3 linked regions of the Homo sapiens genome follow. The protein of the gene in region 3 purifies or fractionates together with the protein of the main gene of each other region. This does not show direct contact. Each region holds a gene or a part of one and is shown on either strand. Other genes may lie near its edges. The genes, in order: FAM234B, COLEC12 and FRMD3.

Region 1 (3,654 bases), on a different chromosome or scaffold from region 3:
TGTCATCTTTGCTGAACACGCTTCTCATGTAAGACAAGAGCTGTGGCCTCCTCTACACTGTCGAATGCATCTCCACTTCTGCACCTTTCCCAACACTACTCTTTACATGTCTGCCACCTCGGCCCCAACTAAATGGTGATATCCTTAAGGAGAAAGACTGTCTCACTAATCTCTGTACCTACAGCAACCGACTGTTTGCCTAATAAGAGACAGGAGCAAAATCAAGAATGCGAAAAAGTAGTTAAGAACAAAAAACCAGGAGGAAAAGATATGCTCGGAAACATGAGACTGATCCAGAACGTGTGCAGCGCGGGGAGCAAAATACCTGAATTCTAATCATCACTAATAAATGCTTCCTGAGAGCAGAAAAATATTTTCTTTTTTGAAAAAATAAACTTGAAGATTACATATAGCAATGATGAGTGGGTCTTGCTAGTCTAGAGTTCTCTGGAATCAATTGATTTGGTCCCAGTCAGGAAAAAATATTTGGGAAGACCTAATACCTAGATCCAAGTACAGCTGGTAAGGGATTAGAGTAGCCATGATCCTTAGTAAATAAGCCTTTATGTCACTTAATTACTACATCAGACTCAGAACTTTCTCCCTTGTCAGTTTCACATTCACTCTCAGGATAGGGACACGTGACTCATTTCATACAGTTCCCACTTTCAGCAACAACTAATATGGATAAGGAAACAAAACTTTTAGAGCTTCCTTCTACCTATTCCTCAGCACGACTAATTGAATATACAACCTAAAAACAAGTGACAAACAATGGCTGGCTGTTTCAGACCCTGTTGCCAGAAGATATATATGACAAACAGAGGTGGTATATGGTAACTTCCAGGCTTCTCAAAGGTGCTAGGATCCCTATCCTGTGTGGTTCTTCCTACTGGAGGACCCTACTCCATCCTACAATGCTCTGACTCGTCTTTTCCCAGATGGTGATGGATTACCCCTTCCTGCTAGACTATGACTTCTCGAGGCCAAAGCCAGGCTCCTCTTGTTCGGCAGTCTGTGTGTAACCATCAGAACTCTAGAGAAGGTGCAGAGTGGCTGCCGCACAGTTAGTATCAACACACAGTTGCTGAATGAAGGAACAAGTGAATAGACAAAAAACTCAATCCCTCTGTGTCCAGTAGCACAAAGCTTTGTGGGTTATGGGCACAGCAGCTTGGCATGAGGGTCAAGGACATGAACTCCAGAGCCAGACTCCTTGGATCCGAATCCCCAGCTCTATCATTTACCAGCAGTAGGACTGGGCAAGTTCTTTAACCTCACAACGTCTCACCTTCCTCATGTGCAAAAGGGGGATAATAATGGGTCTACTTCACAGGACTGTGTGGAAGGATAAATTCCTTCATACGTTATGTGCTGACAATGGTGTATTAACACATAGAAAGCACCATATGTTCGCTATATCCTTATTTGTACAGTCTGTGGCCAAATCAGCCTGGTCCATATTGTGTCCAAACCCATGGCCTTGCCATTATGAGTCTTGGTATGAAGCAAACTACGTAAGATACCAAATGACTAAAAACATCTCTAAATCTAAGTAGATGGGGAAGATTTTTACTTCAGAAGTCACGGGCAGGAAAAGTGTAATCAAGTTTTGATTGCACGGAAATCTACTCCTAGGCTGGAGATGCTCTCTACAGCAGATCTCCACCCAGATTGCTTCCACATCTCATGTGGGCCTCAGAAAGCCACTCCTACTAATGTAAGAGATGTGGTTTAGAATTCTCTAAAACACACCTAGACATGTATTCCAAGGCCTAGACGACTTAAAAGCAGTCACTAGGGCATCCTCAGCATCAAACTAGGTCCCTGCATCAGCTCACAGGCTGCAGTTTGACTCCACTGTAGTGGAGGCTGCAGGATCAACCAAAAGCCTTGTGTACTTAGGCTGAAATCAGAACGCATTTTTTCTTTTTCTACAGCTGACATGTGTAAAAGCTGGGATCCCAGAAACAGCACCCTAAATGAGGGTAAGTTGTGGACGGTTTCTTAAGGAGACTATTCACAAAGATGTGGCCAGCATGTAGAAACACCACAAGTGATAGTGCAGACCCTCAGAACTGTTAGGCTCCCCAACAAAGACACAAGGAGAGGACGCAATTACTGGAATCCAGAAAAGGAAAGTCCTATAGGAGGGCCACCTTGAAACGAGCTGTGACCCAGGGTCAAGGCTGTAGCAGCCATTCTGCAGTGACCCCGGCGGGGAGGGAGCCAGGGGAGTGAATACCTCCCCTCACACTCTTACTCCCCTCCCATTCCTGAGCTGTGCTCCCCATTGAAAGGAGACCAGCAGGCAAGGAAGCCTGTTGATACCATCCATACAGCTCAGCTTCCCCATGCAGAGAGCAGGATGGACAGCAGGTCTACAAGTGTAAACTGAAGGGGGAAAGGAAAACACCCGGCCAAGAGGTATTTGTGTAAAGATGTATAAGTCTATGAACAAAAGTTTTCTTCCAGGGATAGGAGGGTAGCATAAAGTCAATGTTCACTATAATCTAAGAGGCAATGGAAAACCAGGAGAAAACCCAAGGAACCCGAGGACTAACACTGTTCGTTGCAAAGTGTGTGGACAAGTCACTTCCTCTCTGCATCACAGTTTCTTCACTGGCCTGGTCACCACTAAAAATTCCTTCCAGCTCTAACTCCCTCCGATTTCTTAGACTGAGCTTTATTTATATGTGGAAGCTTTCTGATGAGGGTTTTCATGTATGCCAGAACCATGGTAACTTTCTGTTCACTGCAGATCCTTCTCTGCAGTACCACTTGGGACACAGCTCTGATGTTTTCTCCTAGCTGACAGTGCCCCTGTAGCAGCCTTGAAAAAAACACGTCTCTTACCTACTGCACTCCCGTTCCTTGACATCACAAAGGAGAGAAGCACATCACGCAGGCCATCTCCATTCACATCAGCCAATTCCAATGGAGACAGGTCCCCACCTGTTATACACATAAAAAACCAAAAAGGTCCTGAGCAAGTTACCACAAACCAGTTCTCTGTTGCCAGTAGCTCTATAAACACCAGGCAGACTCCAGTTCCTCGACTAGGTATAGTAGACACACCTCTCCCTACTCCCCCTGCTAAGTGCATGGAAAAGCCCTGGACACTGTACATAAAACAAACATAAGACAACTCTAAAAGGCAGAGAGAAGGAAGCAGACCAGCTAGGGACTGCAAGACCCAAGGAATGACAAGGTGATGAGTCCCCTGGGTTTTCTTTTGGCCTCATAATACCCAGATAGGGTGCTGGAAAAGCCAGCAACCCAGAAACACCACAGATACAGACAAAAAAAGCCCCAGAAAAGGCTGCCTTCCCTAGCCAAAAGCCCAGGAAAGGTGCAGTCCAGCAAGACAGGAAAGTTGTAGATAATAACTGCTCTACTCCAACCAAACAGATAAAATTATCAGCCCAGCTCCACCCACTCATATAGCAAAGGCTGAATGTGGAGCCTGGCTCCCACCCTCTCCTGGATGTAACAAGGTACCCCACCACCACCACCACCATCAGGGTCATGTCAGAGAAAGCCAGGTGGGGGCAAGGACTGTCATCCTCATCTAGCAGGACCAAAGGAGTTCCACCCCAACTAGCATCAACAAGGCAGCCCTCTCCCTCCTCTCCACGGGGGTGGTGTCAGCAG
Region 2 (3,654 bases), on a different chromosome or scaffold from region 3:
TAAAAGCATTCAGGTCCAACAGATAACCAGCACTGATAACCAGATAACCAGAAAATGCCCCCAAAGAGCCAGAGTGTGGAGTTCAACCTGAAACCACAGAAGACGCAGTTTGAAGCTGGAGCCTTCAATACTTGACACAAAGCAGGTTTCCAACAAATGCCAAACCAAACATCATAGCAAATGCAGACATTTTTAGGAGCCAGCCTGAAGGACCGTGGACAGGGACTAGGCTGAAGTTAGACTTCTCTTCCATGCTGGCCCACTGGCGCTGTCTACATATGAGTACCCATTGGTTGCTCTATCGTGTTTAGACCAGGGTCCATTCCCAGCTCTTGTACATTTGTCATTACTCTTAGAACAAAATGGTATGGTATCACTGGTTGTTAAAATATTTAAGTGCTTCCAAACCAGCTGGTTGAAGAACAATGGCCTCTGCTCTGAGCATTTCTGCAAGCTGTCCCTGTTTCTACTGTCACCACCACCCACTGTAGCAGGTCCTTGCCCCTGTATCCCTGGGGCCATCAGGACCCCTGAGTCTACAGTCACTCTCCACTGACCAGTGCTCCAAGGAGTTGCTTTCATATGGGAATGGTGGCTTCCACAGTGTGTCACCTGGGTTGCTAAATATTTGGAATGTCCCCTTGATGTTGCTGTGATATCTGGAAGACTTCTTTCCTAACACCAGAGGCTGATAGAATTAATGGTAATGTGTGGGCTTTGAAATTCAAAGACCTGGGTTTGAAGACTGGCTCCACCTTGTAATAGCAATAAGCTCATGTCTGCCTCTCAGTCTCCTATAAGCTGGAACCAATGATTCCTATCTCACACATTTTGGGGAGGGAAATGTGAACTGACACATGGAAAACATCCAACACATACCATCTGCTTAATAAATATGAATTTTCTTTGAAGTAAGAGGACAGAGGCAGTGGTAAAAGCTACTATGCCTTAAGGTCCAAAATAAATATCCTAGAACTTTAATCATCTGGCTTCAAAAGACACAAAACTCCATTCTGAGGTGACTATTTGGGGGAAGGACCAACAGGAAAGCTTGATGAGCAAAAGAGTAATGCGTGCTGCAGGTTCTATTTGGGCTTCAGCAAATTGGCACTGAAGTACCTGGTTGATATTGATGAAAATTTATCTTAACGTATTTTGGGCTGTAAAAACTGAAGAAAGGTGTCCTTTTATCTTGATATGTCCCTAAGCACAGTATCGGTAATATTTGCCCTGGTTTTATAGCTTTACAAATGTAAACCTGGCTCCCCGCATGGTTTCCTTTTTCCAGTCTTGGCATTTCTGGAACACAGTTATTATGTATTCTCCTGGTGAATGAACTCAATGCAGCGTAACAAAGTATCTGAGGTTCAGGATATTTTGTAGGGGGGTAATTAGATCGGCCTTCCATTCAACTGTTTCACTCCAAATGGATGAAGGAATCTGTAGCAGTTTAAATACTTGTAGATTATTTTAAAGTATCACAGGAGATTCATTTTGATTACTCAGCTGCTTACTGAATTTGTTTTGCAACAATGGGATCACTTTTGATTCAATTGCACAGTTTTTTCAAGTCAAAAGTCAAAATTATAGACATAAAATGACTCCAATTTCTGGCACAACTTGCAATTCTGATGCTTGTAAAAATGGCAGATACTTGCTTTTAGAATAAAGAGGCATGGGTACCCTATTCCTTCCTTTACAGTCTAACAAAACTGAGAAAGGGTGTTTTTGTTACTTTTACCCCTAAGTTGGCAGTGGGGGCTAAATCAGATTTCCCCACAGCCACCAACTGCAAGAACTTAGAAGTAATCAGTAAGTACGACATCCAAAACCTTGACATCTGCATTCATCATTCATAGGTGATTATGGTGGAGGTGATGCACTTCCCTTTCTTCTATGAGGAAAATTCTCATCCAGTCATTTTAATCATGTTAATAAGAGAGTCAGAATGAGGCCTTGAATCTCTGCCTTAAATTGAATAAGGGCCTTGGCAGGGCCTCAAATACATGGGTGATTTGGCAAGAAAAACTAATGCTGTCCATTTCTCTGGAGACAAAAAAAAAAAGAGGTCTTTGGTTTAAAAATAACACCGATACGTCTTTTTGTTTTGAAATCCATTAACGTTGTTTAGATTATCTAAACAATTATGCCAAAGCAATATACTATAATTATTTACAAATGTTGGACCAACGTTTTGAGTTTAAGAGACACAATTCAAGAAGACTCTGAATTTGGTTTCCTCTCACCTCCCACACTGAAATGTCACACTTAAGAGATTTCAGGTCAGGCACGGTGGCTCATGCCTGTAATCCCAGCACTTTGGAGGCTGAGGCGGGCAGATCACTTGAGGCTAGGAGTTTGAGACGAGCCTGAGCAACATAGCAAAACCCTGTCTCTACAAAACATACAAAAATTAGTTGGCCATGGTGGCACGCACCTGTACTCAGTCCCAGCTACTTGGGAGGCTGAGGCAGGAGAATCGCTCGAACCCAAGAGACAGAGGTTACAGTGAGCCAAGACTGTGCCACTGCTCAAGGGATCCTCCCACCTCAGTCTCCCAAGTAGCTGGGACTATAGCCACTCACCACCGCACCCATTAAATTTTCTGTGGAGACAGGATCTTGCTGTGTTGATCTGGCTGATCTCAAACTCCTGGCCTCAAGCAACCCTCCCATCTTGGCCTCCCAAAGCACTGAAATTATAAGCACGAGTCATCAGGCTCAGCCCTCCTCTCTTTTAAGACATTTTTCTTTAATGTTGCTTGCCCTATTAATGTAATATGAAATATAATTCAAGATATGAAATATAATGTAATCTGAAATATGAACTATAATTCAAATCTCTCCTGCAAATGAAAATGTCCCTGTCTTCAGCCAGATTATCTGAACCTCAAACAGGGCATGTTCTACTCTCTACTTTGGATTCCAGTTGTTTACGCATAAGTCTTGTCTTGTCTACCAGACTGCAAGCTCCATGAGCACAGAAGCTATATTTTATTCATTTTATTTGGCATTTCTAGAGGGCCTTGCACACAGAAAGTTAATACCAAATATTTGTTTAAAGAATAAATGAAGGCTAGTTAGAACTTGGTGGCCCAATTATAAATAATAAAACAGAAATATGACAGCTTAATGGAAAACTAATACTACTGATGAAATAGACATGACATCATATGGTTTAAAAACATACTTATACATACATCTGTCCGAATACTTATTTAGAGACAAACTTGTTTAATGTTGTGATTCCTTGATGTCATATCCTTACTGGATAAAACCGGACACTGGATTTGAAACACAGATCTTTAAAAATATCATGTCATCAGTAGGCACGTGAGCAATAGTACTAAAAAAAAAACAGTGCTCCTAGGTAATCTAAATATACTTACACATATTTATCAATTTTCTACCACTACTATAACAAATAGAAAAACTGTTTCATTACTACAATTACAAACTTCACTTTGGGAATTATCCCTGCATTTTTTATGATGATAGCAGTGACGGCAGCTGGAATGCAACCAATACTAATACTTCCCCACGTGGAGCACAACTCACTCCTTCTATCCCTGAGGTCTGTTTTAACACATTTGCAATTTGAAAATTACTTTCATTTCAGAACTGAACATTTGCCTTCATGGTCTAAACTACATCA
Region 3 (3,654 bases):
CTCCCCAACTCACTTCTTTCCACTCTTCTCCTCTGTTGAGTCCTGGGTGCAAACTCACCCTTTGTTATCCAGTGTATCCGTGAAGATGCTTTTGGCAAAAGGTAGTAGGAATGTCTACTCATGATGGCTTACAAATAAGAGGACTAATCAGCTCACAGAGCAAACGTGGAGCAGTTCCCTGGTCTGTTAACTTAACTGCCTATTAACTTAAATGCCGGGAAGGATTTAGGTCTCTGTTTTTTTTTTTTTTTTTCTCTGCCATTCTCAGTCAGGCGCATTGGTCCTGAGGCTCCTGCTCCTGAGATGGGCATGTGCGGGACTGGCCTGCACATCTCCCCATGGCAATGCCCGGAGCCTGGAGGAGAGCAGCCCCTTCCATGTGTCTCCTTTTCAAACAAGGATAATTTTTTAGAAGCCCTGTAGGAGACTTCCTGTATACCTAATTGGACAGAATTGGGTCACATGTTTCTATTTAAACCGGTCCTTGCTGAAAAGAATGGGAACTCCAATATATAAGAACACAATTCTTTTGTAAACAGGGAAAACAGGAGTGAACATTTTGCAGTGCAGTGGATTTGCTTCTTGGAAATGGATGCAGAAGGAGGAGAAAGTCAGATACTGTGAATCCGCATCATTTCATTAACTGAATCTGAAATCACCACGTTCTTCCCACCTTGCTAAGTGGGCTGGGCAATTAATATTGTTCTGATCATTAATGTTCACGAACACTAGAGCTTCTTGGAAGAACGATGCAGCCTGACTGTAAATAATAGAATAAATAATTCTGAGCTCTGTGCGGATCCTCTCTTGGGAAGAGAATTGCTGTATAATTCACTCGAGGCTTTTCACTGCCCATTAGACCTTCACCAATGATAATACCTTGTTTCACTGCAATCTGCCTGGCATTTTTGAGTCAGATTCCTATGGGAAACCCAGGTACCTTGGTTAGCTGCCACTTTTTTTCTTCTTACCCAGAGATTTTCTTTTCTTAGGCCAGATGTCTGCAAATTGAAGTTTGAAGGGAAGACATTTTATGTGATTGGCACCCAGAAGGAGGTCAGATACTGCTTTTTTTTAACTGCCTGTTATTGTGTGTGCATGAGAGAGATTCAGGAGTAAAATATGCCTTTAGTATTGTAGTCGCCAAAGACCATGACTTTGAAGTGTATGGTGATAATGAAAGCTATATGCTAAAAATATTTTAGAGGCAAACAAATGAGTACTGGGTTTGTACATTGAACAATAAAGTCAGTAAGCAATGCTGATTGTACACCCCCATGTGCAAAACAGACTGGGATAGACTTTGGAAATAAAAGATGGAACCTCTCCCTACCTCTTTTTGCCAAGATACAGACATGTGAAACAAATAAAGAATACTTACAAAGCTAAATATTCAACAACCAGTGCTCATTAGAGTGTTATAAACAGAGCCTATTAGTCCAGAGAGTCTTAAAACAAGGGAGTTACTAGATATAGATTGTGGATTCACCAGGGAATGCATTTGTGCGGAGACCATTAACAAAATATTAAGCCTCAGAGGTAGCTCTAGAAATTTGCGGGTTTTCTTGTCATGAGTTTTCAGCCCAAGTACTAGTTCCTCAAGGATGGCAAATATGTTTTTAGGCTAATTCCAGTGTGACAGAGAGGTAGATGATGCCTGGAGTGTTGAGAAGCATTGTGAGGCTGATTTTGATCAGAAACAGGTCCTAGATACATTAGTGATATCTGCAAAGGGTGAGGGAGGGGTGAATACCATGTTAATAACACTGTAAATAACATAGCAATATGTTAAGTTACTTCAAGTCTGTGTAATAGGAGATAGGATACAAAGAGGTAAACACCTGAAAAAAAAAAACCCATGGAAAATGTAAATGGTATTTTACGTGCCTTTTCTTGTTTTGTTATTTTTTAATTAGAAAAAAGCCATGTTGGCATTCCATACTTCAACACCAGCTGCCTGCAAACATCTTTGGAAGTGTGGAGTGGAAAACCAGGCCTTTTATAAGTAAGTGGCTTTTATTCATTTAATTATAGCTTTTAAAAGCACCCATGGAATTCTTTATGTTTTGCAAATGGCTGCATATTTATTTCTTTTAATACAGTTTTAAAAGTTATATTTAAGTAAATTAAAATTTTGTGCATTGTTCAGGGTGACTCCCGGTGATTGTTGGCTTGTTGGCCTGACCGAGTTCTGAGCTCTATGTTGGATGTTTCCTGTGGAATGGCTGTGGGCCACTGTGTGTGTGTGTGTGTGTGTGTGTGTGTGTGTGTGTGTGTGTGTATTTCAAATAGCTATTTCCACAAAATATGTCACAGGATCAATTTTTGGTTGCCCTCCTCCCCCCACCCCCACAAAGCAGACCTTGAGATAGTTTGGTACAAGTAGCTTATTTGGGATGTAATCAATGGACATACCAGTAGGGGAGTGGTGGGGGGTGGTGAGATGGGGAAGCAATATAAGATGCATTATTGAGCAGGTCACTACTGTGGACAACTGGGCTCAGATCTTCTTAGGAACTCTGGGACATGGTATAATATGCCTCACAGTTCTCCTGCTGATGGGCAAAGAGGTGGGGCTGTTTATCTACCAATTCGCCATTTATTTTGGTTGAAGCCTGCTTTGGGGGCCAGAATTAATACTCTCTGATATTTCTGGCTTACTCTGAGTATGGGTTGGATGTGCTTTCACAACCAGAAAAAGAGACCTCTGGCAGAGAGTCACCTGTGTTCATAGTAAGAAGGCTTCAGTGTATTGAAAATAGAGCCAAAGGTTTATGGGTGGAATGCTGTCAGAGCCTAGGATCATAGAAAGTAGGTGCTGGACAAGACTTCAGAAACCATCTGTAAAGCTCTCAGGTTTCAAAAGAAGTTCAAACTGAGATCTGTGCATGGAGTTACACCTTCTTCTCTGAGAGACGCTTGCTGACTGGAAAGGCAGTGGTAGTGGATGCAACTAAGAACCTAGTCCAGCCCTGCTCAGGCCATCAGCACTGTACACCCCTGGACCTCATCCAGGTGGCTTTTGATCAGTCCCCCTGCCCCTTACAGTGAGATTCTGTCTTCCTGATTAGACTCATCTCCCTGAAAATGCTGTCTCTGAACCTCCTGGGCTTTGGCTGATGAGAACCATCAGGAGAATGATGGCTTGGATAATGATTTTGAAACCAGTTTCGGCCACAGAATACTTTTCCTTAATCTGAAGTATAGGCAAAGTCCAGCATGTAAAGGAGATAAAAAGAGAAGTTGTGGTGGTAGATGGGGCCTTGGATGGGATTGGAGATTGAAGGGTCTTTGCCCATTGTTCATTGCTTTTCAGGAGCTTGGGTGACCAGTTGTCCAGGTTGCCTATGCCTTTCCTAAGTTTAGCACTGACATCCCCATGTCCCAGGAAACCCATCAGCCCTGGGAAAACCCAGGAGCATAATTTGAACACCACTGGGTGAGATGACGCACAAAATGCTGTGCTAGGAATGATTGGAGAAGGTGATGTGTACCAGTAGACCTTCCTGTGACCACCACCACCTCAAGGTCTTTGTGTGCCTCCTGCATGTTTGGGGACTGATAAGGAAGGAGACCAGTTGGCCTTCGGAAAATCTACATGTCTAGAAGCCTTCACCCACATGAGAGTTCAGAGAGGGAAACACAGAGGGTTTG

Evidence for each region.
Region 1: the proteins of FRMD3 (region 3) and FAM234B purify together in Homo sapiens (affinity purification with mass spectrometry; 2 studies listed by BioGRID and IntAct, with this or other methods). This does not show direct contact.
Region 2: the proteins of FRMD3 (region 3) and COLEC12 purify together in Homo sapiens (affinity purification with mass spectrometry; 2 studies listed by BioGRID and IntAct, with this or other methods). This does not show direct contact.

What each region holds. Positions count from the first base shown.
Region 1 is NC_000012.12:13,057,752-13,061,405, reverse strand, and holds part of FAM234B (protein FAM234B), read right to left. Parts: intron 2,956-3,654; coding exon 2,857-2,955; intron 1-2,856.
Region 2 is NC_000018.10:490,641-494,294, forward strand, and holds part of COLEC12 (collectin-12), read right to left. Parts: intron 1-3,654. UniProt on the Homo sapiens protein: Scavenger receptor that displays several functions associated with host defense. Promotes binding and phagocytosis of Gram-positive, Gram-negative bacteria and yeast.
Region 3 is NC_000009.12:83,307,887-83,311,540, reverse strand, and holds part of FRMD3 (FERM domain-containing protein 3), read left to right. Parts: intron 1-992; coding exon 993-1,056; intron 1,057-1,916; coding exon 1,917-2,005; intron 2,006-3,654. UniProt on the Homo sapiens protein: Putative tumor suppressor gene that may be implicated in the origin and progression of lung cancer.